5 linked regions of the Homo sapiens genome follow. Changing the gene in region 1 together with any one later gene gives a genetic interaction. Each region holds a gene or a part of one and is shown in the gene's direction. Other genes may lie near its edges. The genes, in order: PTP4A3, SHISA8, ACR, KRTAP4-1 and ZNF8.

Evidence for each region.
Region 2: changes in PTP4A3 (region 1) and SHISA8 together harm fitness less than expected from each alone (positive genetic interaction), as found in Homo sapiens cells (one study listed by BioGRID).
Region 3: changes in PTP4A3 (region 1) and ACR together harm fitness less than expected from each alone (positive genetic interaction), as found in Homo sapiens cells (one study listed by BioGRID).
Region 4: changes in PTP4A3 (region 1) and KRTAP4-1 together harm fitness less than expected from each alone (positive genetic interaction), as found in Homo sapiens cells (one study listed by BioGRID).
Region 5: changes in PTP4A3 (region 1) and ZNF8 together harm fitness less than expected from each alone (positive genetic interaction), as found in Homo sapiens cells (one study listed by BioGRID).

The regions. Positions count from the first base shown.
Region 1 is NC_000008.11:141,398,521-141,405,177, forward strand, and holds part of PTP4A3 (protein tyrosine phosphatase type IVA 3), read left to right. Parts: intron 1-2,050; exon of another isoform or gene 2,051-6,657. UniProt on the Homo sapiens protein: Protein tyrosine phosphatase which stimulates progression from G1 into S phase during mitosis. Enhances cell proliferation, cell motility and invasive activity, and promotes cancer metastasis.
Region 2 is NC_000022.11:41,908,068-41,914,256, reverse strand, and holds the end of SHISA8 (protein shisa-8 isoform 3 precursor), read left to right. Parts: coding exon 1-119; intron 120-2,907; coding exon 2,908-3,041; intron 3,042-3,417; coding exon of another isoform or gene 3,418-3,702; coding exon 3,703-3,849; intron 3,850-4,109; coding exon 4,110-4,492; 3' UTR 4,493-4,714; downstream 4,715-6,189. UniProt on the Homo sapiens protein: May regulate trafficking and current kinetics of AMPA-type glutamate receptor (AMPAR) at synapses.
Region 3 is NC_000022.11:50,741,676-50,747,150, forward strand, and holds the end of ACR (acrosin precursor), read left to right. Parts: intron 1-2,385; coding exon 2,386-2,531; intron 2,532-2,977; coding exon 2,978-3,532; 3' UTR 3,533-3,664; downstream 3,665-5,475. UniProt on the Homo sapiens protein: Acrosin is the major protease of mammalian spermatozoa. It is a serine protease of trypsin-like cleavage specificity, it is synthesized in a zymogen form, proacrosin and stored in the acrosome.
Region 4 is NC_000017.11:41,181,892-41,187,617, reverse strand, and holds KRTAP4-1 (keratin-associated protein 4-1), read left to right. Parts: upstream 1-2,706; 5' UTR 2,707-2,763; coding exon 2,764-3,204; 3' UTR 3,205-3,518; downstream 3,519-5,726. UniProt on the Homo sapiens protein: In the hair cortex, hair keratin intermediate filaments are embedded in an interfilamentous matrix, consisting of hair keratin-associated proteins (KRTAP), which are essential for the formation of a rigid and resistant hair shaft through their extensive disulfide bond cross-linking with abundant cysteine residues of hair keratins.
Region 5 is NC_000019.10:58,287,567-58,294,223, forward strand, and holds part of ZNF8 (zinc finger protein 8), read left to right. Parts: intron 1-6,531; coding exon 6,532-6,657. UniProt on the Homo sapiens protein: Transcriptional repressor. May modulate BMP and TGF-beta signal transduction, through its interaction with SMAD proteins.

The DNA.
Region 1 (6,657 bases):
CCTGCGGGGATCAGATTTCCCTGGGGTGGGGTCCTGGAAATAGGGCATCAAGAGGAAGTCTCTAACCCTGGGAGTTGGAGGGTCTCGGGTCCATGGCTGAGGGTGGATGTGCTAGAACTGGACTCTGGAACCTGAAGACCCCCGGATGAGGGTGCTCAGGGCCTGGCTGGGGAGACTCTTGCCTTGTTCTCCCCAGTGTCCAGGCCTGGGCTGCCCAGGGGACACTTCAGTTGATGACGTCATTGTCCAGGAGGCTTTTCTCTTGGACCTCAGTTTCCCCTTCTGCAGGATGGGCTGGACCCACTCTGTCTAGCTCTACCACCCCCTAGTCCCTCTGGGGAGCTGCAGGAGCCTGTTCCCACGGCCTCGTCCTCACCCGCCACGGAGACCTCGAAGCCAGGCCTGGCCCAGCTAGAGGAGGTGACGGGTGGCCCTGCCCTGTCCCTGTCCCCATCTCAGTCCCCTTCCCACGGGACCGGTGCTCCCGGCTGCTCTCCTGGCCCTGGGTCCCTCCTGTGACTCAGGCTTCCTGGAAGAGGCTCGGGAGGGCTCGGAGGATTCCCCGCCACCCCACCCAGGGTTTCTGCCCGCCTGCCTCAGGTCCCTGTCACCACCCCTCCTGTGGCACACGGTGTGCTTTACCTGCTCATCCACTCCGCCCTTGCCCCTAGAGCCGGTGCCTCTTACTCCTGGCACCCCCACTCTGGCATCTTCTACTGATGCCTGGAACGCTGGCCCCCTCCTCTGGCTCGCCTGGTCCTGGGGCCCCTGCCAAGGCAAACATCTTCTCCTTTAATCTCCCCGTCCTGGGTCAGCCGCAGAGGCCCTTCCTCCCGGGCTTTGCTTCCCTCTGGCCAGCTGCCCAGAGGCCCATCTGCTGGGAATTGCCGTGTGGAGCTCAGGGGGTCCCTGGGGGTGCCCGGGGCTCCCGGCTGCCCCTCCCCTCGGTGGCCTCCCTGTCCCCTCCGCATGGCCCTGGGGAGCTACAAGGCCTGGCCCTGGCTCTGCCGACTCTCCCTGCTCCTGCCCTTTCTGGGCCTCCGTTTTTGTGTCTGGAGAATGGGGAGCCTGGGGGAGACCCCGGCCCCCACAGCAGATGGGTGGGATCAGGACAAAGGCCTGGCAGCTGAGCTCCAGCCACCTGAGCCAGGCTGCTTGCTTCTGAGTCGGTGACTGCAATGGATGGACGGGGTCCTGGTGGCATGCCCTTTACTCTCTTCCAGGCCTGTGACCTGGGGGAGGGCTGTCCATGGGTGCCTCAGTTTCCCTACCTGCCAGGTTGTGTTCTTGGGGCAGGCTGGGGACGTGCAATGGCAGCACTGCGGGACCCACAAGGAGCTCACATGGGGGAGAGGCGACATTTGAACAACGCTTCAAACATGTAGTTATTGTTTTCTCTTTTTTGAGACGGAGTCTCACCCTGTTGTCCAGGCTGGAATACAGTGGCACGATCTCAGCTCACTGCAAACCTCCGCTTCCCAGGCACAAGCGATTCTCCTGACTCAGCCTCCTGAGTAGCTGGGACCACAGGCATGCGCCACTATGCCCAGCTATTTTTTGTAGAGATGGCATTTCACCATGTTAGCCGGGCTGCTTCTCCTGGACTCAAGTGATCCTCCTGCCCCAGCCTCCCAAAGTGCTGGGATTACAGTGTGAGCCACTGCGCCCGGCCCACCACTGTGCCTGGCCTGCCTCTGCGCCTGGCCCACCTCTGCGCCTGGCCCGCCTCTGCACCTTGCCCACCACTGTGCCCGGCCCACATCTGTGCCCGGCCCACCACTGTGCCAGGCGCAAACGTGGTTATTGTTTTAGACACACATTTGGTGATGTTCATTATAAAAATTCAAACAGCCTGGGAAATACACGGCTGCAGTAGCTCTGGGCTTCTGCTTCATTTCACAAGAACCGTGCCGGCCTCGGGTGCTGTTTTACAGTGTCACTTGAAATTTCCCTGGGTGTTGACTGGGGTCCTCTCCCGATGGCACCCTTGGACCCTGGTCTCTGGGTCTGGTCAGATGCTTGTTTATTAACCAGCCATCCCCCCACCCCCATGATGGGCTCTCCTAAGTGAGGCCATGGACAGCCAGGATGTGCGTCTCGGCACCGGGGTGAGTCTTTCTTGGCCCGCTGGCAGAACCCTGGGTCAGATGGGAGGGTTGTTGGTGCCCGGCTGTGTGTCTGCCAGCCCCTTCATCCCTATCCTGGCTGCTGTGTAGCTCCTGCCTCCCCATAACTCTTGGGGGGCTGCCCGGGTCCACACTGGCCCCGTGGGGATGGCAGTAGGCAGAGAGGGGCGGTCCTGACCCCAGAGAAATCCCATGGGTGAGTAGGACTTGTAGGAGATGGCAGTTCCCTCCCTGGAGCATGTGTCCCCAAGACTTAGAGGTCGTGGTGGGGCAGGAAGCAGGTAGTCAGGGTGGGCTTTTGGGAGGAGATGGCATCACAGTACGGAGGGAGTCATGCACGAGGCACCAGGAAGGGGCAAGCCGGGTGAGGACAGGCTCCTCCTGGGGACCCAGGACCTGACGGAACGGCATCACTCTTAATGGCACCGTCGCGAGCCTCTTCTGGGCCAGCAGCCGGAGCTCACCCAGGGCACATCCTTAAACCTCAGGGTCCCCTGGTGGCAGCTGCCATGGTCGTCCTGTTTCCCAGGGAGGGAAGCTGGTGTCTGAGGCTGGCACTCTGCTAGGTAGCACAGTTGGGGAGTGGCAGTGCTGGGATGGAAGACAGACAAGCTGGCACCTGCACATCTGCACGTCCTGTCGTTGAGGTGACCTCTAGCCAGCCAGCTCATCTGCTCCTTTGCAGATGAGGCCAGAGAGACGGGAGTCTCTGGTGTGGAGGGGAGGGCACTGGGTTTGGTGGGCTGGCCCTGGGGTAACTTGCCTGCCTGTGCTTCAGTGTCCCCCTCTGTAAACAGGGTGTGACGTCCCCCCGGCCATGTCGGAGGCTCCGAGAGGGCAGCGGGTCCATCTCAGCAGATGCTCTGCTGACGGATGCTGCTGGCTGGCCCCTGCTCCCACCCTCCCCTCCTTTGGTAGCCTCCCTGGGCCGGGCTGTTCCCACGGCTGCCCAGCCACAGGAAGCCATCTGGAGGCCTTGTTTACCCCTCCCCCTGGCCTCCCTGGCAGGAAGTCACCGGAAGGGCCGTCCCGAGGGGCCCCGGGCCTGTGAGGACAGCCATCGGCTCAGAGGTCTGTGCTGTGGAGTCCCAGGATAGCATGCGGGGGCAGGGAGCTCAGAGAACAGCAGGTGGAGCGGGGCTCCAAGGCACTGGAGCACGTGGGCCGGAGCATGGACAGAACCATTTACCGAGCGCATCCATCTGTCCATCCACACAGTCACCTACCCCTCCCCCGCTGTGGCCCCAGCAGGGCCCAGTCCCATGAAGCTCACAGTCTCAAGGCATGGACGAGGCCACTCCAGCTTCAGCCCAGGGGGGCCCCGTGATGCCAGGGCCATTCCTCCAGCTCCCGGGATCCCACACCTCCCCTGATATCACACAAGCCACCCTGGGTCGGGGCTGGAGGAGGAGACCTGGGCAGCAGCTGGGGTGTCCAGGAGAAGGGAGTTGGGGAGAGGGGTGCCAGCAGAGGGTGCAGCCTCTAGAAACATTGGAGGCCGCCCTGGGTGACGGGTCTGAGGCTGCAAGGTGTGGGTGGAGCAGGTGAAGGGAGAGGTGGGCAGGCACAGCTGGCAGGGGCTGAAGGCATGGATGGGACCAGTCGGGGTACTTGTGGCCCTGCAGAACCCCTCTCTCCACCACCTCCTCCAGCCCTCTGGCGCCCTGCTCAGGGAGGGCTCCCCCAGATAACCCTGTAGGTCTGGACCCTCCTGGAGTGGGCTCAGGGGCCTGGGTTTCCACTCCACAGGATGGGTCCAGCTGCCCCGGCATTTGTGGCAGCCCCAGTGCCCACTGACAGGCCTGAGTGTAGCTGGCTAGGCCCAGGGCCTTTCCCACAGACACTGCCAGCAGGGACTACCTGGCCCTAGGGGGATCTTTGACCTCCGTGGGGCCTTGCGCCCTGTGTTCTTGGCGGCCTCGCGCCTGTCCCGGCCTCCTGCCTTCGGGAGCTGGGTGGAGTGGGGGCAGGCAGCCCTGCCCCCGCCCACATGGGGAGGCTGAGGATTGGCCCTTCCGCCTCTGGCTACCCCTCTTCCCCTCCCCCATACCTCCTGCTCCCCTTTTTCCTCACTTTCCCCCCACCCCTCCCCCCTGCTTCCGCTTTCTCATCCCTTTAGAAGGTGCCTACTCATGATCGTCTTGAGTAAAGCCCTCCCTGAGAGTGTCTTGGGGTTTCGGGCCTGGCAAGCATCCCCAGCCTCCCCTGAAGAGGAAGTGAGCGTGAGAACCGGGCCTTTGGCGGATCCAGGTGCCTGCGGGCAGCCCGGGGGCTTGTTTGTTGGGTGCCTGGCCAGCGGGCCGGTCCAGAGCAGGAATAGATGTCTCAGGAGGGTCCCTGGCTGGTCCCAAGCACCTCCTGTGTGCACCAGGGCCGCTGTTCTTCCGTCCAGCCTCCCAGCAGCCCTGGGGTGTGGGTGCCTCTGATTCGGAGGGAGTGACGGGACTTAGGGTTAGCCAGCTCCCCAGGTCAGAGACGCAGAGCCCTGGGCCAACCCCAGGATGAGCCCCATCAGCCTCTCCTTCCTGACTCATTCAAGATAGTAAGTGAAAGAGGGCATGCAACCAGCACGCAGCCCCAGAGGAAGGCTGCAGCGGCCTCGCGCGGGGCCAAGGAGGCTGGGCACCGTGTGTGCCGTGGCACTGCCCTCCCTGGTGTTGCTGATGCTGCTGAGATGGGAGAATGTTGTGGGATTCTGGGGGAGGCTCTGGTCTGAGAGTCCCGAGCCTGGGGAGATGGCCTGGCTGGGCCCAGGCTGGCCACAGGGGCACCCCAGACTTTTTTCCTGGGCATGGTGTACAGTAAGTCCTCACATCACATCATCCATAAGTTCTTGGAAGCTGCGGCTTTAAGCAAAACGATGCCAGTTTTAAGTGAAAATTGGTTTAAGGACACTAGTGTTCCCATAAGTTGATAGAGATAGATAAGAGTTAAGTTCCTGCCAGGTATTTCTGGTCACAAAAACGTCACCAGGCTTCCAATGAAGACCCCAAACACTTCTAACATTAAACACTGAAGTAAATGTGAGCTACACATACATGTAAGAAAAGTGAATTAAACAGGGAAGAGAATTGCTTCCCCAGCTTTCCGTGGGCCAGTGAGTGGTAACGGAACACACATCTCACGGCAACCATGGTCGGGAGCTCCTCCTGCCACCACGCACTTCAAAATCAAACGATCACAAACGTGGCGGCTTCCTGTATTGCCACGCATTCGTCTGACTATGTCTATTTGACGAATTTTTATTTTGCAATAATTTTTATTCATTTATTCATTCATTTTCCAACCCACTAATTCCAGTGCAGGGTCATGAGTGGCTGAGCCTGTCTCAGCAGCTCTGGGCACAAGGTGGGACCTGACTCTGCTCAGGACACCATCCCCTCTCGGGGCACACTCCCATGCACAGCCACACCCACTCAGCCAGGGCCACGGCGACACGCCTGTTCACCGGATGTGCACAGCACTGGGGTATGGGGGAGCCGGAGGACAGGGAGAAAACCCACACAGACCTGGGGAGCTCGTGCACATGCCACGCAATGGCCCTGAAAGGGAAGCGATTTTTTTTTCTCGTCAGCGTTATCACAAAACCACGTTGAAAGCAACAGTGTTATTTGAGGAGCTGCTGTACTTGACGGATGGTGCAGGACAAGGTGGGCCCTCTTCGGGGCCTCTGCGCCTCTCCCCCTTTCAGGGGGTTGGGGTAGAAACTGGATCAAGGATAGGGGACTCTCATAGGATTGGAGGGTCCATTGGGGCAGGGCCCCCCAGCAGCTGAGGGCCTCTCTCCCCCTGTCCTGGGGTCCTGGGGTCTCTGGCCCCCATGAGTCCAGCTCCTGATTGCTCTGCCAAGTTTGCTGTCATGCCAGGAACTAAGCCTTTCTCCTCGTGAGCTCTCTTGCACCCACAGTATAGCCATGGTATTCAGTAGGTGCCCAGTAAGTGTGGGCTGGTGAATGGGCCTCCAGGGAGGTGGGATTTGGATGGACAGAATGGACGGGTCCTTGGGAGGTGGTACTGAGTCAGCAGAGGCTTGGGGGCAGAGCATCTCTGCAGAGGCAGGGGCTCCATCCTCAAGGACCCCCTGAGGGCCTCCAGGAGGAGGCAGCCATGGGGTGCGTGGGGAAGTAGGAGTGGCAGCTCTGAGTCAGCTTGTCCCAGCTCTGAGCTCCCTCCCGCACCTACCTGTCTCCACTGTGGGGGCCACACAGCCTTTACATATAAAGGGCATGGAGCAGCGCCTGGCACTCAGGCTGCCAGTACCACCAACTGGCAGCACTCATTGGGCACTGACTGTCTACATTGCCAGGAGTGTTCAAGAAGTAATTTAAACTGCCAGAAATCCTCATCCCACGGCATTAACTGACACCTGCTTTGGGCCTGACCCTGTGCCTGATCCTGGGGACCTGGCATGGGTCAGTCAACGCTCCCTGTCTGCCGCCCACAGTCCATGACAGGGACAGACAAGTCACGAACAGGGCTGCAGGGGCTGACCCAGGAATGAGCAGGACCTCTCTGGGACTGTTTAGGGCTT
Region 2 (6,189 bases), on another chromosome or scaffold:
AGCCATACGGCCGTCTACGCTGTGTGCGGCGTCGCAGCGCTGCTGGTGCTGGCCGGCATCGGGGCGCGCCTGGGACTGGAGAGGGCGCACAGCCCGCGCGCGCGGCGCACAGTGACCAGGTGAGCACGCGCCGCCCAGGGACCCCCGCCTGCTCCTCGGACTGCTCTCCCTGCCCGCTGATCCTTCCCGCCGCTCTCGAAGCGCTGGTTCTCCCAGCAGGCCCCTTCTCTGGGTTTTCCTGTCTCCTTCTCCCCCCGCCGCCCCCCCAACACTTCATCAGGGAGACACCTGACACCGCCCTGACTCCCTTTGACCTTCTGCCCGTGCTGGGCGCCGCACCGCCTTTCCCTGCTCGAGTCTCCTCTGGAGGGCAGGGGGGTGGGGGCGGGCTGGGAGGGGGACAGGTAGCCTTGCACAGAGGGCACCGGGTCACTGTCCAGGGTAAGGGGCGCCGCTGGCCAGGGAGGTGACCGGGCGTCTTGGGCACGGGAAAGGAAGGGGCGCTTGGTTCTCTGGGTGCCCATCTCCTGCTTCTCCCCACTCCTCCCTCCCCTCTTCCACCTCCTGCCTCTCCCCTGCCCCCACAGCTGTGACTCAAGGCTGCCCTTCCCTCCTTGGGTTTCAAAGGCCTCCCCCCACTCACCCCATGCCACAGCTCCCAGGTGAAGGTCAGGGCTCCCTCTGCGTAGAAAGGGGACTCTGGAACACAGTCGTGTGTTGCTGAGGCCAGGACAGGTGCTTGTTGCATTCTGAGCTTGGTGTGAAGTGGGCACTACAGGGTCCAGGTCCCCTTCCTCGGTTGGAACGAGGACTCTAGGACTCTATGTGTCCTGACCCTGGAACTCCCACCCACATGCCACACGTGGCACTCACATGCCCCCAGCAACCCCCATGCCCTGGGGCCTGTGCCCTCCTCATCCACCCGGTCCCAGCACCCTTTGGGCCTGTGGGCTGCTGACACCGAATGTGACAGGCTGGTATTTAAAAGTGACCATAGAGAAGCCTTCATACCCTGGCAGGCCAGATGTGGACACTTCCCCCTCCTGGGCCTCAGAGGCAGGGGGTGAGGGCTTCCTTGGCACTTCAGCACCCCTCGCTCCCGAAACCACGTAGCCCACTTTCTCCCAGGGAGCTCTAAGGGAAGCCCGGGCTGGCACCCTGGCCTCCACCCTCAGCTTCTGCACTGCCTTCAGGAGGTGGAGCCTCCTGGCCTGGCTTCTGGATGCTGCAGGGGTAGGGGCTGGGCTGCCCAAATTTGGGGGTCCCCCATGATGGGTGAGGGTAGCTTGGAAGAGGCCTGGATATGTCTTTGACAGGGGCGGGGAAAAAGGAACTTAGGGCTGCGATGGTGAGGGGTGGCTGCAGCAGCCCAGCTGACATGTTCATCCTGAACTCCCTGCACCTGCTGGGGATGGGGCAGCAGGTTTGGTGATGCCGCAGGAAAGCCATGCCCACCCTTGCTGTGCTGTGTGGTGTAGGCCAGTCCCTTCTCCTTTCTGGGCTTCAGGCTCCCATGGCCCCAACTCCCTTTTCTCTGCTGGGGAGACCTGGAATGGGACGTAGGCTTGTGTGTGGGTGTGTCCTGAGTCCCTGTCCTCCCCTCGAGTCTCACCCTTCATTCTGCTGTGTTGGGGTTGAAGGCCAGGGAAGGCTTCTCAGAGGGCTTGGGCGGGGCATCTGGAAAGAGTTTGTGCAAAGGCCCAGAGGCGTGGTGGTTACTCAGCTGTCAGGGAGACAGGAGCTTGAGGTGCTTGCCCAGAGATGAGGCCACAGAGGTGAGCCTCTGGGGAGAGGGCAGGGCAGGAAGGTCAGCCCAGGCAGGTACTAGGATGGTTTCAGACCCTGCCACCAAACCTGAAGCCAAACCTCGGCCATCCCTGGTGTCCTGCCTCCTGAATGACCTTCACGAATCAGCCATTTGAGGCTCTAGCCCCGGAAGGAGGGTCAGGCTGAGTGGGAGAAAATCATGGGTTCCGGGTTCTGAAGGCAGCTGGGCTGCAGACACTGTCACATCACAGCTGGGTGGGGGCTGGGTGTTGGGTCCAAGGAGGTGGCTGTCCAAGGTCACACAGCCTGTGGGTCCTGGGCTGCCACCAGGGGGTCTCCCAACATCCCCATTCCGTCACCCATCTGTCCTTCATGCCCGTGATGGCAGCTTTATCCCAGGTCCCAGCAGAAGCCGCGGCTGCAGGGGCAGTTAGGCAGGCAGGTAAATAAGGCATCCTGGGCCGGGCGCGGTGGCTCACACCTGTCATCTCAGCACTTTGGGAGGCCGAGACCGGCGGAGTTGGAGACCAGCCTGGCCAACATGGTGAAACCCCGTCTCTACTAAAAATACAAAAATTAGCTAGGTGTGGTGGCAGGCACCTTATAATCCCAGCTACTAGGGAAGCTGAGGCTGGAGAATCACTTGAACCGGGGAGGTGGAGGTTGCAGTGAGCCAAGATTGCGCCATTGCACTCCAGCCTGGACAACAGAGCGAGACTCTGCTTCAAAAGATAAAAAAATTAAAAAAAAGGATTCCTGGAGGAGGCCGCTGATGGGGTCTGAAGAATGAGTAGCAGTTTTTTGGGAGAAGAGGCAGGAAAGCAGAGAAAGCTCGCATTGGGAGGGGAGGCTCACCTGGGGAAGGTCCCTGAGAGTGGGCTCCAGGGAGGGGAGGGGAGGGAAGGGGAGCCTCATTAGAGTTTCCTGACCTGCTCTGGGAAGCAGCTGTCTTGGGGCCACAGGTGAGGCTGGCAGATACTGCCTGGGAGGGGAAACTCGTGCGTGATTTCGAGCACCGGAGAGGACGGCCTGGAGAGGCCGAAAGAACTGCCCAGGGCCACACGGTGAGACGGTGGTGGCCGGGGCTGGCTTTTGATGAGGTGGGAGACAGAGGGCCACCCCTGACTGCTGTCCCCGCAGGGCGCTGACAGAGCTTCTGAAGCAGCCGGGCCCCCAGGAGCCACTGCCTCCCACCCTGGGCCCACCCCTGGGTGGCTGTGTCCAGGTGCAGATGGGGGACGGCCTCCCCCGGGGCTCCCCCCACAACAGCGCAGGTGAGTCGGTGGCGGGCGGGGCTGAGCGGCGGCGGAGCACGCGGAGGGGCGTGAGAGGCCGAGAGGCGGTCCCTCGGCTGGGGCATAGAGGCTTCCCCGGTGGAAATGAGCCGCGGCCTCTGCGGGTGAGGGGCCCGACCGGCCAGCCAGCTCGCCAGGGTGGAAAGGGACCCCCCACGGGTCCTGCGGCCTCGAGTCTGGGGGGCTGTGATGTGTGAGGAAGGTTCCAGATGCAGGATTTGCTGGCCGGGGCTGTGATCTGAGGCTCGGGCTCCAGAGCCTCCCCCTGGGTCTCTCGAGAGGCAGGCAGGCTTGGCAGCCCCCACGCCCCGTCTGGGTTCTGTTCCTCAGACATCCCCCGTCTCGGCGGGAGCAGGTCCCAGGACTCCGCGCCTGGCTCGAGCGTCGCCTCCGGGCGAGCCGTTCATGAGGGTGGCACCCCCCGGGCTGGCTGCCGCCGCCGCTGCGCGTGACTCGGAGCCAGGCCCTGTTCCAGGCGCTGGAGGCTGCGGCGAAGACAGGCTTGGCTCGCAGCCTCGCCCGGAGAACGGTCCCCCAGGTTCTCACCGAACGGCCTCGGGGAGAGGACTACGGAGAGGTGACAGCGAGGGCGGAGTGAACCGGGGCATCGGACCGAGCCGCGTCTCACTCCTCGCTCCAGACAAGAAGCGCCTCAACAACGCGCCCCGGGGGTCGGCCGCCCCGGGGCCCCCGCGCGGCCCGCGGCTGCAGGGCGGCGGCAGCCTGACGCTGCAGCCAGACTACGCCAAGTACGCCACGTTCAAGGCCGCCGCGCTCAAGGCCGCAGGTGAGTGGCGGGTGCGGGCAGCGTCAGGGCACCTGGGCGCACGAGCTCCCGGACTGCGAAGCGCGGGGCCGCAGCTCCAAGCGCCAAATTCCCAGTTCCGCGCGCCCGCCGCTCGGCCAATCGGCTCCCTCGCCCCAGCGGGCCCCGCCCCCGGCCCGCCCCGGCCCGGTCCCCGTCCCAGTCCCCGGCCGGGACCCCTTGTCCAGTCCTGAGCTTGGGTGCTCGGCGCGGCGTCACTCTTCCCTGCCCTGTCCCCGCAGAGGCCGCCCCGCGGGACTTCTGTCAGCGTTTCCCCGCCCTCGAGCCGTCCCCGCGGCAACCCCCGGCGCGGGCTCCGCGACCATCCCCGGACTTGCCTGCGCCGCTGGACGCCTGCCCCTGGGCCCCGCCGGTCTACGCGCCCCCTGCCGCGCCGGGCCCCTATGCCGCCTGGACCTCCAGTCGCCCGGCCCGGCCCGCCCCGCTCAGCCACCCGACGGCTCGGGCCTTCCAGGTACCCCGGCGACCCGGGCACGCGGCCCGGCGCCAGTTCAGTGTGAAGATGCCTGAGACCTTCAACCCGCAGCTCCCCGGCCTTTACGGCAGCGCGGGCCGCGGGTCCCGGTACCTAAGGACCAATAGCAAGACCGAGGTCACCGTGTGAAGCGGGGCCGCGGTGCCCTCGAGGCATGGGCTGGGGTCCTGTCTGCCCGTCGGAGCCTCAGGCCACAGGGAGAGGAGCGCCTGCCGTAAGGCCAGCTCTTCTGTCTGCCTCAACGGCAGTGGTGTCTTGGAGCCTGCAGGCCGCGGGTTCGTCTTGTAAATAAGCCCTTTTATGTGGTTCCTGCCCCTGAGAATAAAGAAGCCCCAGCGTGGCTGCGAGGCACCATTGGTCACTGACTGTACAGATGGCAGTGCAGGCAGAGGGCACGGCGAGTGCAAGGTTGGAGGACTGCTCCAGTGCACCGGCCAGAGCCAGGGGGAAGTGGCTGGAGAGGGGGGCCAGGGTTGAATGTCAGGGTTAATGCCCACCCCCGTGGGAGCCCTGGGAGAGAGGGAACAGTTAGACTTCAGCCATAGAAAGGCCCGGGCACAGGAGAGAGGGCTGTTGGGTCCAAGGCCCAGTGGGGGGTCCATGCCCTGTACTGAAGGTGAGCCCCCTCCAGCCGCCACTCTGCAGCTTGAGTTGGCTGAACCTGGCTGATGCTCACTGACCACTGGCTGTGGGCCAGCCCCTGGCCTGCAGGTCGCTTGGCCAGATTGGCCCCGGGCTACCCCCCTTAATGGGTGTGGGCCGTGTGGACATCTGGTGCTCCGGATGGGGGCGCCTCCTCCCAGGAGCTTCTCTGAAGGAAATGGGGGAAAAGCTGGAGCAGGGTCCCTGGCAGTGTCCCTCCGGGAGGGCTTCCTGCACCTGGCTGTGGTCCAGAGCACTGCTAGCAGTCTGCGTGCATCTTCCACAGAGTTCCTCTCCGCCAGGTAACACTGGGGAGGCTAGGGGTCAGGGCTGTGGCTGGTTGAGGTGTGTGATGTGGGGAGGCTAGGGGCCAGGGCTGTGGCTGGTTGAGGTGTGTGATGTGGGGAGGCTAGGGGCCAGGGCTGTGGCTGGTTGAGGTGTGTGACCTCAGCAAAGCCACCCAGGTGGGTCTGTTTCCCTCCTGAGTACCTGAAGTGTGGTGTACTGTTTTAAGAACAATGGCCACCATTTGTTGGCCTTTCTCAGGAAATCCACAAGCGCCTCAAGTGGGTGTGTCTTTACAGAGGAGGAAATTTGGGTTTTGAAACCTAAGTAGCTTGCCCAAGGTCACCCAGCAGACTCCCAGGTTAGGACTCTCCCGAATTGCTGTGAATCGGCTGGAATGGCAAGCAACAGGCAGTTTGGCTGGGAGGGAGGGTTCTGAGGGTTGGTAGGGAGGGGTCCCTGTTCCCAGGGTATATATAAACAGTCTGGAGCTTTCCTTCTGCTGGTTGGGCTGCCCTGAGGCCCCAGAACCCACCAGGCCCGGTCTCCGCTCCTGCCACAAAGGGTCCACCTCCCTGTCCCTTTAGGCTGTTAAGGAAACCAAGGCCTAGAAGCACCAGGACAGAGCTCTGGGCCCACGGTCCTGCCCCTGTCCCACAGCTGTGCAGAGCTGGAGGAGGGTGGGGGCTGAGGCATGGAGCCTACACAGACTCACAAAGGAATCTGGTTGCTTCTCACCCCACCTCCCACCCCCTGCTGGGCTGTGCCAAGAGTGGGCAATTCCCCCTGCTCATTCTCAGTTCCAAGGGCCCTGGATCTCCATCCCAGTGGAGCCAGGCTGAGGCTGTGGGCAGTGGCCATCCCTGAAAATGATGGAGCTGTGCACGGGACCAGCTGCA
Region 3 (5,475 bases), on another chromosome or scaffold:
AAGAAACCCCCAGGCTCCAACTCCTGTGATCCCTTCAAACCTTCCATGTCTTACCACCTCCTTCAACTCATCTGCTTTGGGGCTGGAAGGGTATTGCTTGGGTATTGCTTCTTTCCCATTGGGTTTTGAGTCCCTGCAGACTTTTAAGCATTTGTTATTTAAAGCCCAGGTGTCGGCTGGGTGCAGTTGCTCATTCCTGTAATTTACCCAGCACTTTGGGAGGCCGAGGCAGGTGGATCACCTGAGGTCAGGAGTTTGAGACCAGCCTGGCCAACATGGTGAAACCCAATCTCTACTAAAAATATAAAACATTAGCAGGGTGTGGTGGTGGATGCCTGTTGTCCCAGCTACTCGGGAGGCTGAGGCAGGAGAATCACTTGAACCCGGGAGGTGAAGGTTGCAGTGAGCCAAGATCACGCCACTGCACTCCAGCCTGGGTAACAAGAGCGAAACTTCATCTCAAAAAAAACCCGCCAAGGTGTTGGGATTTAGAAAACCCTTTTCTGTTTGAGGACACCTGGCTCTTCACAATAAAACCCATGGCTTTCAAGACTATGGGCTCTGCCCTAGACTTAAAAAGTCATCTTGGCCGGGCGCGGTGGCTCACTCCTGTAATCCCAGCACTTTGGGAGGCCAAGGAGGGTGGATCACAAGGTCGTGAGATCGAGACCATCCTGGCTAACACGGTGAAACCTCATTTCTACTAAAAATACAGAAAATTAGCCGGGCATGGTGGCGGGCGCCTGTAGTCCCAGCTACTCGGGAGGCTGAGGCAGGAGAATGGCGTGAACCCAGGAGGCGGAGCTTGCAGTGAGCCGAGATGGCGCCACCGCACTCCAGCCTGGGCGACAGAGCAAGACTCCGTCTCAAAAAAAAAAAAAAAAAAAATCGTCTTAATGGCTAATAAGCCAGGATTGTTGTCATTGTTGTTTCAATGTCACCCCTACCCCAAGGGCAGTGCATGTACAAAACTCTCACTGCTGCTTGGATGGTAAGAAAAGGTGGGGGCTAAGGGGATTAAAAAACGGAAAGCCAGCGAGCACTCGTTCAGCAGCCGCTTACCAGACGCCTGCTGTGTGCCGAGCCCTATGCACGTCACTCGTGTGTCCCCTGTCTCCCGTCCTGGCCTGTGCAGCTATGTTCTGGGTCTGCCCCTACCTCAGTCTGCTCCCATCTGCTCTGCAGGTGACGTCCAGATCCACCCCCAGGGTTGTAGGTGCTGCTGCGGTGGGGGCCAGAGTGGCTGCTGCTGTTGGGGACCCTTCTGTCTGTGGGACCCCTTGAAAAGGAGCAACGCTGGCGCATGCGCCGTAGCATCGGGTCTTTCTAACCCAAAGGTCACGGTAGAGAGTCCAGCGCTTTCTTTCTTTTTTTGTTTGAGACGGAGTCTCGCTCTGTGGCCCGGGCTGGAGTGCAGTGGCGCCATCTCGGCTCACTGCAAGCTCCGCCTCCCGGGTTCACGCCATTCTCCTGCCTCAGCCTCCCGAGTAGCTGGGACTACAGGCGCCCGCCACCATGCCTGGCTAATTTTTTGTATTTTTAGTAGAGACGGGGTTTCACCGTGTTAGCCAGGATGGTCTCGAACTCCTGACCTCGTGATCCGCCCGCCTCGGCCTCCCAAAGTGCTGGGATGACAGGCGTGAGCCACCGCGCCCAGCCAAGTCCAGGGCTTTCAAGGAAGTCCGCATCGGGGTTGTTTCAACCGCCCCTGCCCCTGCCAGGTCTGCCCGTGTGTGGAGGCGCTGCCCCGAGCTTCCCCTGCGGTCTCCTCGGAACAGATATGCAGCATATGGGGAGGGACTTATTGACCCAGCTGCAGCAGATCCCGTCCGCAGCTGAGCCGAGGAGTTCTGAAGAGGGACAAGAAGCAGGGGGAGTGGCTTACAGCCAGACTGTGGGAGTGGACAGTGTGTCTCAGACTGGAGTCTGGAGAGGAGCAGTCCTGAGGCCAGGCTGCAGCCCCACCACCTCTCTACTGTGACCTGGGTGGGCGGTGCTCCAGCCTTCTGATCCAAAATGGGAATAACGGGACCATGTGACTCAGGGAGTGCTTGGTGCACACTAGGTGTTATTGGTAATACTGCAACTAACCTCCATAATCCATCGTTAATACGCACACCCACCCCCCATCCACCTGTCCACGGGCCTCCACCCTTCCTTCCTCTCTTCCTCTCTCCTCTGGCCTTGATTTGGATAACATTTCCCCACCTCCTCCCACCACCTCTAGTCTGCTCTTTCTGGTGTATAAGGAGGGGTCGGGGCATCGACTGGATGGGTCTGAGGTTTAACTGGAGCATCACAGAGGATGGGGTTCGGTGGGGCAAGGAGGCAGGGCTTTTGTCCGTGTCTCCCGTGATCACTGACCACCGAGTGGTCTGACTATAGCCCCCAGGCCATCATCTATACTGATGGAGGCACGTGTGGATCTCATCGACCTGGACTTGTGTAACTCGACCCAGTGGTACAATGGGCGCGTTCAGCCAACCAATGTGTGCGCGGGGTATCCTGTAGGCAAGATCGACACCTGCCAGGTAACCTTCCTTCTGGCTTCTGGGCCCCTGGGTCCCTCCAGGACTCTCCCGGCCCCTGAGAACATCCTCCTTTTGGATCCCCAAGCTCCACTATCTCCACTGCTCTGCCCAGGGCCCTTCTCTAGTGACTGCTTCCCCGGTCCCTTTTCTAGCACCTACTCTCACAGTGGGGATGAGCGGTGACAGCCACCGGCTGCCCCTGCCATGTGCCCCTGTGGACACGTGGGTTTGCTCATCTCACTGCAAGGAAAGCCCTGACAATTCACACCCTCCTCACATCCCAAATGAAGCCCCTGACACCCCCTCAAACTTTACTACAACCACTTGTGTTTACAGCAGCAGGAGACCATGTCACTGTGGAAATTGTCCTCCCAGAGCCTTCCGACCCCTCTGGGCAGGGGAAGAGTGGCTCAGGCAGATAGTGACCTCTGTGTCCTTCTGGACAGGGAGACAGCGGCGGGCCTCTCATGTGCAAAGACAGCAAGGAAAGCGCCTATGTGGTCGTGGGAATCACAAGCTGGGGGGTAGGCTGTGCCCGTGCCAAGCGCCCCGGAATCTACACGGCCACCTGGCCCTATCTGAACTGGATCGCCTCCAAGATTGGTTCTAACGCTTTGCGTATGATTCAATCGGCCACCCCTCCACCTCCCACCACTCGACCGCCCCCGATTCGACCCCCCTTCTCCCACCCTATCTCTGCTCACCTTCCTTGGTATTTCCAACCGCCCCCTCGACCACTTCCACCCCGACCACCGGCAGCCCAGCCCCGACCCCCACCTTCACCCCCGCCCCCACCCCCACCTCCAGCCTCACCTTTACCCCCACCCCCACCCCCACCCCCACCTACACCCTCATCTACCACAAAACTTCCCCAAGGACTTTCTTTTGCCAAGCGCCTACAGCAGCTCATAGAGGTCTTGAAGGGGAAGACCTATTCCGACGGAAAGAACCATTATGACATGGAGACCACAGAGCTCCCAGAACTGACCTCGACCTCCTGATCTGACCTGGTTCTCAACAGACCCAGTGAGCCCTTCACTCCTGAGAAAAAGGAAAGATGAAATAAATAAATAAACATATATATATAGATATACACACACACATATCTGTATGTATACATGCATATACATCAAGAGATGCTTTCTGGACTTCTTCCTATCCCCCCTCCCAACCCAAATTTCCCCTATAAAATCTACCCTCTCTCCTTCACCCTACAATAAGGCGGAATTGCTTGTACATTAGTGCCAATCGTGTTTTTTAAAATCTTGATTTTTAATGCTGGAATAAGGTGACCTGGGGCCGTAGACCGGGGATGGTCTTTATTTCACACTTAGGGAGAAACGACAAATGGTGAAAATAAAAGAGCCATCTCTGCATGTGCAAGTCAAAGGGGGTGGACCCCCAAAGCAGCAGCTGTGAGTGAGCTGACGGGGAAAGAGGGGGTGTGGGTCCAAGTCTTCTATCAGGAGGCTGGTGGTGTTGACACCCACAGAGAAGATTCTGCATGAAGGTTGAACTCCCCAGAACACAAAGGCTAAGGAGGCCACTAGGCCACCAAAACAAGTGTCTACTACCAAACACAATTTTGCTTGTGGCTTGTTAGTGTCCAGTTGACACCAACAAGCCTGTTCATTACTTGCCTGTAGTTAAATCTTATTAGTTCCTGGATTTGAGCAAATTAAAAAATGTATTCTTTGCTAGAGCTTTCTAGGAATTGCAATGGGGAATACTTTTTGGATGCCCCCGAGTGAGCTTTGAGTGGCTTCCTTAGGATTTGGGGTTATTTATTTTAAGACCTTCCATTGCAAGGAACAGAAACCAGTTAGAGCCATTTAAGTGATAAGGATGCAAAGATGTCACACAGAACCAATAGGAAAGGCCAGAAGCAGACACCAAGAATGGTGAGGAACCCAGGCAAGGCATGACCCTGGTCTGCATAGAGTACCTGCCCCACACTGCCCCATGCTGGGGGCAGCTGTCACCTGGAACTGTTCACATCTATTTGCAAAATCCTGGGGAAGAAATCCTCCAGCCTGACCAATATGGTGAAACTCCATCTCTACTAAAAACACAGAAAAATTAGCCAGGTGAGGTGGCGGTGCCTGTAATCCCAGCTACTCGGGAGGCCGAGGCAGGAGAATCACTTGAACCCGGGAGGCAGAGGTTGCAGTAAGGCGAGATCACGCCACTGCACTCCAGCCTGGGTGATAGAGTGAGACTCCATCTCAAAAAAAAAAAAAAAAAAAAAAGAAGGAAATCCTGATAGGTTCAGGCCAACCGCCCACTCTGATCAGGGAGTAAAAATGCAAAACTTGACTGCTGGTTTAACCCCTTGTGAGACTGAAGATGGCAGGTCTCAGAAAGAGAGAAAACCTTGGCATTTGGCTGAGCAGTCATTGCAACAAGCTTTCACTCATACGTGTGTCCACCTAGCTGCCTGTGTGAGTCAAGCGCAAGGTGGTCCTATGCCCCGGTTACCAAGACAGGTGGCAGAGAGAAGGTGCCATGGCAGGTGGGAGGAACCCTGGCTGAGAAAGCTCAAAGGACCAGTCATTTTCCTGCTGGAGCTGGAACCTGGACTGATGGAGCAGCTGTGAATCTTCATCTTCAAAATTTATTGGTCTACCTGGGTTCAAGCAAATACCCTGCTCTACCCCGCATAAGCTCCGTGCTCTGGGGAAGATGTGCCAGAGGGCTGTGTGACCATGAAATAAGGACAGATGCGGAGTATTAAAGCAGGTCTTGACACACCAGAAATGCCCACGAACGTGGGCTGTCATTCATGGGCCAGCTGGTGGTGACTGCTGGTGCATAATCTTACGCTTATCTGCAGGGGCACTTCGGTGCCTGCCGTTTTCCTCTTATGACCCCTGAAATGCTTTGGCCACATAGGAGGGCTTGCGTATTGAGTCGAATGGCCCATGGCTCTGTAGGATAGTAACAG
Region 4 (5,726 bases), on another chromosome or scaffold:
TTTGGGTATTAACATATCCATGTTTACATCTATTTTAAATACTGTTCAAATTGAAGGGACTGTGGCTATGCAGCTCATTCAGGAACAGTAAATTAAATGGTTGGAACAAAAGAATGACTCGTCCTGTGCTCAGAATATCAAATGACACACTCTGAAAAGTATATGAAGGAATGGATGAGATGATGCTAAAACAAAAAAGGAAGAAAAATGGTGCTTTTAGGGATAAATAACTGATTAAATGGAAATTACCTTAGCATCCATTTTAAAAACCAAGGCTAACTGCTACAATGTCATGCTTCAATCAGAATATCTGATCATTTCTCTTCAGGTAAGATAAACAATAGCAAGGAAATAACCCAGGTCATGGTGATGGCAAGTCCTCAGCAGGGTAGAGAAGGAAACTTGGAAGGAAGAAGGCTTATGAACTCTAGTACCTTATGCCACTGAAAACCCACACCCAGAACCTCCACCTTCTGACACCATGGTCAGCTCCTGCTGCAGCTCCTTCTGCTGTCACCAGAGGTGTGGTTAAGACCTCTGCCAAGAGATCTGCTGCCATCCCAGCTGCTGCCAGACCACCTGCTGCAAGACCGCTTGCTGCTGCCGCAGCTTCTGTGAGTTCAGTTGCTACCATCCAGTCTGCTGCCAGACCACCAATCTGTGGATCCTGTTGTTGAATTTCATTCCTGACCACCAGCCTGAGTCAACTACCATGTTGAAAACATACTTGTTTTAAGGAGAAGGGTTATCTCTAAGCTGTCTCCCCTGCCTTCAGACAGAGAGGGCTATTTCTAAACAAACAAGTGACCATAGAACTGTGGCTCAGTTAGACCAGAATCCCAAGCCTATGATACCTGCACTTGCTTTGACCTTGATAGTGACTTCCTTATGATACATTAATTATGTCTGCAAAAATATTAATATTCTTGTTGTCATAAGAAGTTGGGCTACATTCAAACTAAGTGCAAAGAAAAAAACCTGTTATAAATAGACAGGAAGGTGATAAAACTGCAATCATAGCAGAGGCTTTAAACATACTATTTCAAAAACGGTCATTTGAAGAAGAAAAGTAAACAAAGATATGGAGAATTTGAGTAAAATCATTATCAACTTAGACACAATGGATATTTTTATGCCATTTTATGCCTAACGAACTGAATTTTCATAATTTTTATATATACCCCAAATAGTCATAAAATATGTCCATAAAAATATATTCTAAATATGTTCTTGTATCCTTCCTTCCATCCCCTCTTCCCTCCTTCCTGAATAACTCAGTCTAAATAGAAAGTAGGTGTCTGCATGGGATAGGGATGGCCTAAAGAGATAACATTCTTAATTTCTTTTTTTAAAAATTAATGTCGTCTTGCACTTATAGAAAAATTGCAAGAATAGGTCAAAGAGGTTTCTTTGGTGATAAAAAGAAAGTGATGCTTCACTGCCTCTGAGCACTAGTGTGTGTTGCCTACATCAAGGGCTTTCCCCTCCGTAAACACAATAGAATTTAAAATCAGGCTTTATTCTTGCAAACAATGTTGCAAAGAATACCCTTGAACTTACATCTTGGAAGGTATGTATAGGTGCATCTGTTGAATACATTTCTAGAAGTGAAAAGGCTCAATCAAAACACACGCACATTTCAAAATATGCTAAATTAATTTAAGATACTGTTAAATTTCAGATTCTGTTAATTACCATCTAAAGAAGTTGCCTCAATTTAGATCCCTGCCAACTGTGTATTAAAATGTCAATGTCTTTATAATTTCACCAATTTATTAAAGTTTTTAAACTTAAATATTTTACATTTGTCATTACAAATAGCAAGTATTCACTGCCATATCCCGAGAGCATGCAGTAGAACCTGGCACACAGTAGGTATTCGGTAGATGGTTTGATGAGTGAATAAGTTGTTCAATTAAAATACCTTAAATTATGAGTGAGACTAAACATCTTTCAGAAGCTCAAAAGGCACTTAAATTTCTTTTTTTAGTGAAATCACTGTTAATATCCTTTACTCAATTTTCTGTTTGGTTGTTGTTGTTGTTGTTTTTCTCATTGGGTTGTAAGAGGTATTCATGGATTAAGAAAATTAGCTCATTTATTTGTAGATTGGTTAAGGTATTATTATTTATTTTCAGCTTACTCTTTAGCCTTCTTGTTTTTCAATCAGGCATTTGAGTTTTTTTCTGTTGTAAATTTTTTTCAATCTTTTTCTTCATTGTTGTTAAGTTTTTCTGTATTAGAAAATCCACTCCACTTCTAATATTTTAAGACAATTTCTGCTGTTTTCTTCTAGTTGTTTCACAGTTTATTTTTCTCAGAAGAATCTTCAGAAAACAAGAAACATCATCCCATTTGAGGACTGCTGTGAGACACACAGTTTTCAGGATGACACACAGAATGCTGAGTTCCAAGTGATCTGTCACCTGACAATCGACTGGATGAGTAAGATTACAAGTCTTTGAAATTAAATGACACACTAAATTAACTGAAGACAAGAGGAGGAGGAAAGACTGGATTGGCTAAACTCTAACACAGAGAAAGAATAAAAGTGCATTCCACCTTTTATACAGATATTTTCCCACAATTAGCTAACTTGATAATTGCCTATCTATTAAGATAAACAATAACAAGGAAATAGCTTTTATGTGGTGACAACAGCTCCTCAGCTGAGTATAAAAGTGGACATGGGATAAGGAGATTCCCACATTCGAAAAACTCACTGTCTTGGAAACCTACCTAGAACCTCCACCCTCTGACACCATGGTTAACTCTTGTTGTGGCTCTGTCTGCTCTGACCAGGGCTGTGATCAAGGCCTCTGCCAAGAGACCTGCTGCCGCCCCAGCTGCTGCCAGACCACCTGTTGCTGCCCCAGCTGTGTTGTATCCAGCTGCTGCCGCCCATCCTGCTCTCAGACTACCTGCTGCCAGACCACTTGCTGTCGCCCCAGCTGCTGCCACCCAGTCTGTTGTCAGACCACCTGCCGCCCCAGCTGTGGTGTGTCCAGCTGCTGCCGCCCACTCTGCTGTCAGACCACCTGCCACCCCAGCTGTGGTATGTCCAGCTGCTGCCGTCCACTCTGTTGTCAGACCACCTGCCGCCCCAGCTGTGGTGTGTCCAGCTGCTGCCGTCCACTCTGCTGTCAGACCACCTGCTGCCGTGCAACTTGCTGCCGCCCCAGCTGCTGTGGATCCTCTTGTTGAACCTCATATTGGACTATCAACCATGAGCCAGTCACCATCCCATGATATGAAAGTGTCATTTATATCAACTTGTCCATGTGTTAAATGGCCATCAGCTTTATTATCCTGTTATTCCACTAAGTAACTGGTGAAAGGGCATCCATCTACATTTAATACCACTCATTTTTCCCATGGATCTCTTCCCAGCAGCATTCAGACCTCAGATGCATGATGCAGTTAGACTAAGCCTCTAAGTTTCTGACTGTTATGCTTGATTTGACCTTCAAAATTACATATTAACTGTTCTTCAATAAATATTATCTTAATATCAGTAATTCTTTTCTCTTTTTTCAATTTTTTTGAGAATTAGTTGTCAGTTTATTTTTTAGCATTACTTCTCTCAAGATAAAGACAAATTTGGGTTACCACGACCAGGAAAGAAAACTGATTTTGTAAATATAATGTAATGCTTATATTATAGAAAGGACTTCATAAATTTTTCAAAATAAGATAACTCGCTGTATTTAACTAACAAAAGTTTCTTATTCAGTCAATGAAATTATTGATCATCTGTCATGTTCATTGCACTGTTGGGCTCTGGAGATCACATCAAGATATGTGAGGCACAGGAGCTTCCTAAAAGGAGCTCACCGTCTAATCTTGGAAATAAGAGGAAAGAGCAAAGTAGATAGATTGTGCTGGGTAGTACTGATCAGAGGAGAACTTTCTGTCTTGGGGAAGAGTAAGACATTAGGAATATACATATACACACATTTAATAATAGAATGAGTTAAGTTGGTACAGGGAAGATGTGCAGGTCACAGACCCATGAAATGAAGAGGAGGAAAATATAGGAAAATGTTTACATTCTTATGAGGACAAGACTGAGATGAGCTAAGAAACAGTTGGTGTTGACCAAATTTGGTGGAAGTTAAACCTCACTGGCCTCATCCCATCACCTCTATGTTAATGGTACTATACTAAAAGTCATAGGCAAATGAGAAAGCTCTTAGTCAAAGATGGAGCCACACAAGGACAAGGGAATATCCTCTTTGGGGAAGAGTCAGGGAGGAGTTGGGTAAGGGTTTGAATGGTAGGCAATGATAGAGTTGTAAAAGAGAAGGACTCAGGCTGTAATTTTAAGCTGTGAGCTAAGAATGCACTCTCGGGATATGCTTAGACTCTACAGCTTTCTTGTATCTCAGGTAAACTTGGTCATATTCAGACAAGCAAACCATATGTCTCCTGTAGCCACATGGCTTTGCTTATTCTGCCTGATGTCACTTCCACATGAAAAAAAAATATACTTGAGCAAAATACAGGATTTAATAGAATAAAAATTATCCTCAGGAAAGGACCAAAAAAATTATAGATGTTCTAAAATGGGGAAATAATATTCTTTTCAATAATGATAATAATCATGAAGGATCAGAAAATATGGGCAGGAGTGCAGTAAGCAGTAATGCCAAGGCTGTCAAGGTGAAGCACAGATGCAGTGGAAGGTCATTGCAAATGATGGGGGTGCCACTCAGCTGATGGGTAGACAGCAGGAAGGTAAAGCGAGAAATACTGGTAGATTTCTCATTTTCATTGGTATAATTTATACCTAAATACCAATTACTGTCCACACTTGTCTGGGATAGGCAAAGCAAATTGTCAAGAAATGTTATCTGTTTTGTCTTTATAGCGTGTGTCACCATGTTTACAGCAGCCTCTCATCTCCCCATGACAAGTGAATGTTTTACCCAAGGCAGCCTAGCTCCAAGGCAGCCATCTGGTTGTTTCCTCTGCTCTTTAGCAACTACTTTCCCTTTTGGAAGTTCAAACTTATCACAGTTTCTCATGTCTTTGAGATAATTTCCATTCCATAACCAAATAATATCAATAGGCCCAAGAGTTAAGGACTTTAGTTAGAAGCAAAATTTAGACAAGGACGAAGAAGAAAATGGCAAAAATTAAAGTACATTATCATATCAGTAGAGCAATATAACATTAGTGTCATAAAGAAAGTCACATTCTTTTTTTTTTTTTTTTGAGATGGAGTCTCACTGTGTCGCCCAGGCTGGAGTGCAGTGGCGCGATCTTGGCTCACTGAAATCTCTGCCTCCCGGGTTCACGCCATTCTCCTGCCTCAGCCTCCTGAGTAGCTGGGACTACAGGCACCCACCACCGTGCCCGGCTAAATTTTTGTATTTTTAGTAGAGACAGGGTTTCACCGTGTTAGCCAGGATGGTCTCGATCTCCTGACCTCATGATCCACCTGCCTCGGGCTCCCAAAGTGCTGGGATTACAGGCATGAGCCACCATGCCCGGCCAAGGCTTTTAAGAGTTTCTTAACCAACCTTCTATTTTCTTTCTGGATGAAAGAGTTCTAATATTTTATTCTTTCTTGTAAGGGTATCGCTCTATTCTTATGAGAATCTAAATACACTTTTCTGGGTAAACATTAGCTTATGTCTCAGTTAAATTTTGAAATGAACATAGGCACAAAACAGGCAAGATGTGTTGCCAGAAGTATAAAAATGCAGGTTGTATTTATTCCT
Region 5 (6,657 bases), on another chromosome or scaffold:
GGGCTCAAGCAATCCTCCTGTCTTGGCCTCTCAAAGTGCTGGGATTACAGGTATCAGCCACTGCACCTGGCCTTTTTTTTTTTTTTTTTTTTTTTGAGACAGTCTCACTCCGTTGCACAGGCTGGAGTACAGTTGCATTATCTTAGTCTCCTAGGCTCAAGTGTTCCACCTACCTCAGTCTCCCTAGTAGCTGTTACTACAGGTGTGTACCACCATGTCCAGCTGATTTTTTTGATTTTTTTCTTTTTCTTTTTTAAAAATTATTTTACTTTTTTTCTTTTTTTTTCTTTCTTTCTTCCTTTTTTTTTTTTTTTTAGAGATGGGGTCTCGCCATCTTGTCCAGGCTGCAGGCTGCTCAAACTAACTCCTGGGCTCAAGCAATCCTGCCTCAACCTCCTAAGTGCTGGGATTATAGGCGTAAGCCACTATGCCTGACTTTTTGTTTGTTTGTGTGTCCTTTTTTTTTTTTTTTTAATAGAGATGAGATCTTTCTACACTGCCCAGGCTGGTCTCAAACTCCTGAGCTCAAACAGTCCTCCTGCCTCAGCCACTGAAAGTGCTGGGATTACAGGTGTGAGCCACTGTACCTGGTCACATGTCTAGATTCTGTAAACTTGTTCCCCACACCCTTCTTTATTCTCTTATGAGGAAGAATTGTGTTTAGCTATAAATACCCTAAAACCAGGTTGGAGCAGCTCAAAATAAAGAAGCATTTTTCTTGTAAAACAGGAGCCCTGAGTCTGCTGGTACTGTCTTGGCATCTCAGAGGTGCCAGGGCTGATTGTTCTGTGATTTTCCCAGGCTGTCCTTGGGATTACAGTGCAGCTGCAGCAGCTCCAGCCATCACAGTTGTGCTCCATGCAGGAAGGAGGGGAAGAGGTAGGAAGAATTCTGCCAGCCACATCTGTCCCCTTTTGGCAGAACTCTAGATGTCACCTGCTGGGGTCTCTTTAGCCAGAACTAGGTCACCTCCTCTTGCACTGACCCTAGTTGCTAGAGAGGCTGGAAAGCTAGGGGTGTCTAGATTGTCATAATTGGCTTGGGCGAGTCATGGTCCCCTTGCTGTGGCTTGTGTGTTGGTACCCTGACCACATTCTAGAGTAAATAGCATCTGGCCATGGGATGTACAACCAGCAATGCCTGCAGATTAGCCTCCCACCCAAATACTTCTGATGCCACCCAGGGCTTTCTGATTCTGCAGAAAAACACATATGCCCCCATGATAGCGTATGACCTATCAACTGGGAGTCGGGTGAATCTGCTGCAGACCCTGTTTTCCTGCCCCTTTCATCGGTTGTCACTGCTGTTACTTCAGACATGTATGTCGGAAGCAAATTCTCATCACCCTGGACATATGCCTGTCACTCACAAGTCTTATGCCATAACCAAATCCAGGATCTAAAACGTGTGCCCATAAATACTAAGCAAAATGTTGTGCTTGCATGGATTAGGAGTATGGGGTCAAAATCATGATGGACAGTTTCAATAACTTAATACCTAGACAGTTATAAATACTCCAGAAGCAGAAGGTTTTCAAGGCTTTATGTTAAGACAGAAACATATTTTCCATGTAATGCTTTGTATTAGTTTCCTGTTGCTCCTGTAACAAAGTACCACAATCTAGGTGGCTTGAAAAAGCACCGATTTGGCTGGACGCAGTGGCTCACCCCTATCATTCCAGCACTTTGGGAGGCCAGGGCAGACGGATCACTTGAGTCCAGGAGTTCGAGACTAGCCTGGCCAACATGGCACAACACCGTTTCTACTAAAAATACAAAAATTATCCAGGTGTGGTGGTGCATGCCTGTAATCCCAGCTACTCAGGAGGCTGAGGCACAAGAATCTCTTAAACCCAGGAGGTGGAGGTTGCAGTGAGCTGAGATCATGCCACTGCACTCCAGCCTGGGCGACAGAGCAAAACTCTGTCTCAAAGAAAAAAAAAAAAAAAAAGGACAGATTTATTTTCTTATAGTTGTGGAGGTCAGAAGTTCAAAATGGTTCATCAGGGCTAGTTCCTCTGACGGCGCCCAGAGAGAATGCATTTCTGTCTTTCTCAGCAGCTGGAGGCTGCCCAGACTCCTTGGTTCATAGACCCTTCCTCCATCTTCAGAGTGCTTCACTCTGACCCATTTCCATTATCACAACCGCTTCCCTGACTCAGACCCTTCTGCTTCCCTCCTATATGGACTCTTTGGTCAGATTTAGGGCCCCAGGATAATCTCCCATTTCAAGATTCTTTTTTTTTTTTTGAGACAGAGTCTCGCTCTGTCACAAGGCTGGAGTGCAGTGGTGTGATCTCGGCTCACTGCAGCCTCCGCCTTCCCAGGTTCAAGCGATCCTCCTGCCTCCACCTCCCAAGTAGCTGAGACTACAGGCCGTGCCACCATGCCCAGCTAATTTTTTGTATTTTTAGTAGAGATGGGATTTCACCATGTTGGCCAGGATGGTCTCAATCTCTTGACCTTGTGATCCGCCCGCCTCAGCCTCCCAAAGTGCTGGGATTAAAGGCGTGAGCCACCGCGCCTGGCCCATTTCAAGATTCTTTTTTTTTTTTTTTTTTTTTTTGAGACGGAGTCTCGCTCTCTTCCCCAGACTGGACTGCAGTGGCGCAATCTCGGCTCATTGCAAGCTCCGCCTCCCGGGTTCACGCCATTCTGCCTTAGCCTCCCGAGTAGCTGGGACTACAGGTGCCCGCCACTGCACCCGGCTAATTTTTTTTTTGTATTTTTAGTAGAGACGGGGTTTCACCGTGTTGGCCAGGATGGTCTCTATCTCCTGACCTCGTGATCCGCCCGCCTTGGCCTCCCAAAGTGCTGGGATTACAGACGTGAGCCACCGCGCCCGGCCATCAAGATTCTTAATCACAGCTACAATATCCCTTTTGCCACATAAGGTTCCAGGGATTGGGATGGGGACATCTTTGAGGGGCCGTTATTCAGCATACCACATGATTAAAATAGAGAGTAAATTTTTTTTTTATTATTTTTAAGGAAAAGAAGCCTAGTCAATAGAAGAAGACCGCGTCTCTACAAAAAAATTTAAAAATTACCTGGCATGGTGGTGTGTTCTTGTAGTCCTAGCTACTTAGGAGGCTGAGCGGGGAGGATTGCTTAAGCCCAGGAGTTCAAGGCTACAGTGAGCTACAATTTGCACCACTGCACTCCAGGCTGAGCAACAGAGCATTAAAAAATAAAGGAAAAGAGGCCAGGCATGGTGGCTTACGCCTGTAATCCCAGAATTTTGGGAGGCCGAGGCGGGTGGTTCGCTTGAGTCCAAGAGTTCAAGACCAGCCTGGGCAACCTGGCAAAACCACATCTCTACAAAAAATGCAAAAAAATTAGCTGGGTGTGGTGGTGCATGCCTGTGGTCTCAGCTGTTCAGGAGGCTGAGCCCAGGAGGTTGCAGTGAGCTGAGATCATGCCACTGCACTTCAGTCTGGGTGACAGAGTAAGACCTTATTTCAAATATAAAATAAAATAATGGTGAAGAATCCCTGTCCAGGCAGATCCCACTCCCAGTGCACTCACAGGGGTTTGTGGGCTCAGGGATGGCTGGGCGATCTCAAGCCCCTCCTTGGCCCCTGTCACTCGTCTGGCATCATTCCTTACTGGTTCCCTCTTGCGGTTGCTCAGCTTCACCTGCTGCAGGTCACCTCCTGGCTGACTACAGTCCCAGCTCTTCTCCCATTTCCTCTCTTCATCAACTGCTCACCCTCTCTCTCGGAGACTCCATGGCTTCCCATGTGCCAGGATCAGTGAGTTGTTCTGGGCAGCCAGGAGTCAGGCTGGAGTTGGAGCCTGTCTCAACCTCAGTGCTCTTTGCTGTTCCTGGCCAGGCCAGTTCACTAGTGTTCTCAAGTCCCCCTCCTCCGGATGTTCTTCCGCACTCTCCCAGCAGGCAGCGTTAGTCTTGGCTGGGGTCACAGTGTTGTCTTTAGTCTCTGTGTTTTCGTCCGTGTTGTCTCTCAGGCAGTCTCCCAGCTCACGAGCCTGTTCCATGGATGTTCCTGAGGACCTGCCATGTGCTGCTGTTTGTGCTGTGGATGCAGCAAAGAATGACAGGAAAGGCTGAGCCCTCACTCAGCATCTGGGAGATGGAAGTCTTGAGAGATGGATGCCAGTGCCAGGCAGTGATGAGGCCGTAAAGGAAATGCACCTGGGGAGGGCAAGATGGGGTGCTCATGCCCCGGGACTGGCAGGGAGGCCTCTCTGAGAAAGTGACTCAAACTGGGGCACAGGGAGCAAGGTGGGCAGATGTCTGGGGATGAGGGTTCTTGGCAGAGGGAGCAGCAGGTGCAAAGGGCCCCAGGAAGGAGTATGGGGGATGCATTAGAGGGATGTGAGGAGCCATGTGGAGCAGAGTGGGCGTGGGGCAAGAGTCAGGAGGTGAGACGAGCCAGGGCATGGTGGAGAAGGGCACAGGGTCGTGTCCATCCTCAGAAGTGACTGCAGAGTGAATGGAGGAGTGACCAGGGCTGGCTTGCAGTGGGGAGGAGGGTGGGTCTGTTTGGTTTTGCATAATAGCTTTATCAAGATAAAATTGACATACCATAAGTTCACCTATTAAAATGTACCACTCAGCGGTTTTGAGTATATTCTCAGATTGTGTGCAGCTATCTTTACTATCTAACTCCAGAACATTTCATCACCATCTTAGTCAGCTTGGGGTACCGTGACAAAATACCACCGCCTGGGTGTCTTGTACAACAGACATTTATTTCTCACGGTTCTGTAGGCTGGAATTCTAAGAGCACAGTGCCAGCTGATTCGGGCCCTGGTAAGGGCCCCTTCCTCAATTGCAGAAGGCCGCCTTCTCTCTGTGCCCTTATATGGCAGAGAGAGGAAGCAAGCCCTGTGGTATTTCTTCTTATAAGATCACTAATCTCATTCTTAAAGGCCCCACCCTCGTGACCTAATCACCTCCCAAAGGCCTCATCTCCAAATACCCTCACAATGGGGATTAGGGTTTCAACATAGGAATTTTGCTATCGACATTCAGTCCATAGCAGTCACTCTCCGTCTTTCCCATCCCCTGCCAACCAGTAACCTACTTTCTCTCTCTATGGATTTGCCTGTTCTAGATATTCCATACGAATGGAATCTTACAATTTGTGACCTTTGTATCTGGCTTCTTTCACTCAGCAGAATGTTTTCCGGCTTATCCATGTTGTAGCGTATGTCAGTACTTTGTTCTTTTTTGTGGCTGCATAATATCCCGTCGTATGGATAGACCATATTTTGTTTATGCATTTGTTGAGGGGCATTTGGGTTGTTTCTACTTTTGGCTATTAATTAATAGTGCCACTATGAACATTAGTGTATAAATTTTTGTGTGAAGTGACTTATATTTTAGAATAAACCTCTGGGTGCTATGTAGAGAGTCAGTTTTTTTTTTTTTTTGAGACAGAGTCTCTGCTTGGTCGCCGAGGCGGGAGTGCAGTGGTGTGATTTTGGCTCACTGCAACCTTCGCCTCCCAGGTTCAAGCGATTCTCATGCCTTAGGCTCCTGAGTGGCTGGGACTACAGGTGTATAACACCACACCCGAATAATTTTTGTATTTTTAGTAGAGACAGGGTTGGCCAGGCTGGTCTTGAACTCCTGACCTCAAGTGATCCTCCAGCCTCGGCTTCCCAAAGTGCTAGGATTACAGGCATGAGCCACCGGGCCTAGCCAGAGAGTCATATTTGGGGGCCAGAGGTGACAGAGCAGGAAGCCTGGCACCTGGCCAGCCTCAGCTCCTCCATTATCTCTCCCGTTGTCAAGCTCTCATTCATTCATTCCCTCGATACGTTCCTTCAGCATTCACTGAGAGATATTTTTGAGCTTCTACTACTTGTCATTTCTAGGCACTGGCTGTGAACATTCTAGTGCGGTGAGGTGTACCCAGAATGAATGAACACATGACCTGTATTTTGGTCAGGACAAGAGCAGATGAGGGGGCTTGAAGAGGGCTTGGGGAAAGCGGGAAGCCTGGCTTATAACAGAGTCCCTGTCCTAATCCCCAGAACTGGTTATCTTGGATACTGGGTGAGCAAGAGGGTCAGAATCAGACAAGGAGATGTGACAGCAGAAGCAGAGGTGAGTGAGAGAGATCTGAAGATGCTGTGCTCAGCTCTAGAGGTGAAGGAAAGGGCCAGGAATGCAGGCAGCCTCTAGGAACGGGAAGATGCAAGGATTTTCCCCAGAACCTCCCGAAGAGAAACCAGCCCTGCCAACACCTTGATTTTAGGACTTCTGTGTTCCAGAACTATAAGATAATAAGTGTGTTTTAAGTTACAGCAGCAAACAGGGAACTCATATACCTTGACTTCATTGCCAGTGCATGGCCCACAGCAGGTGCTCAATAAATGTTTGTTGAATGAGTGGAGCCGTGTCTGAGGGCACTTGATGTTAAAATAAGAGGAGAATCAGGGGACTTGCCAGGGCAGCTGGTTAGGACCCCATTTCAATATCAGGCCTATGGTGTTGGAGGCCTGTCCCCCTTCCGTTTTTTTCTCCCAACAGCTCAGAGATCTTTGGGTTTTCTTTCAGCCTGGGAGCCTCGATCTGAAAGCCAAGCATCACGCAAGGAAGAGGGCCTGCCTGAAGAGGAGCCATCCCATGTCACGGGAAGGGAAGGATTCCCGACAGATGCTCCTTATCCCACCACGTTAGGGA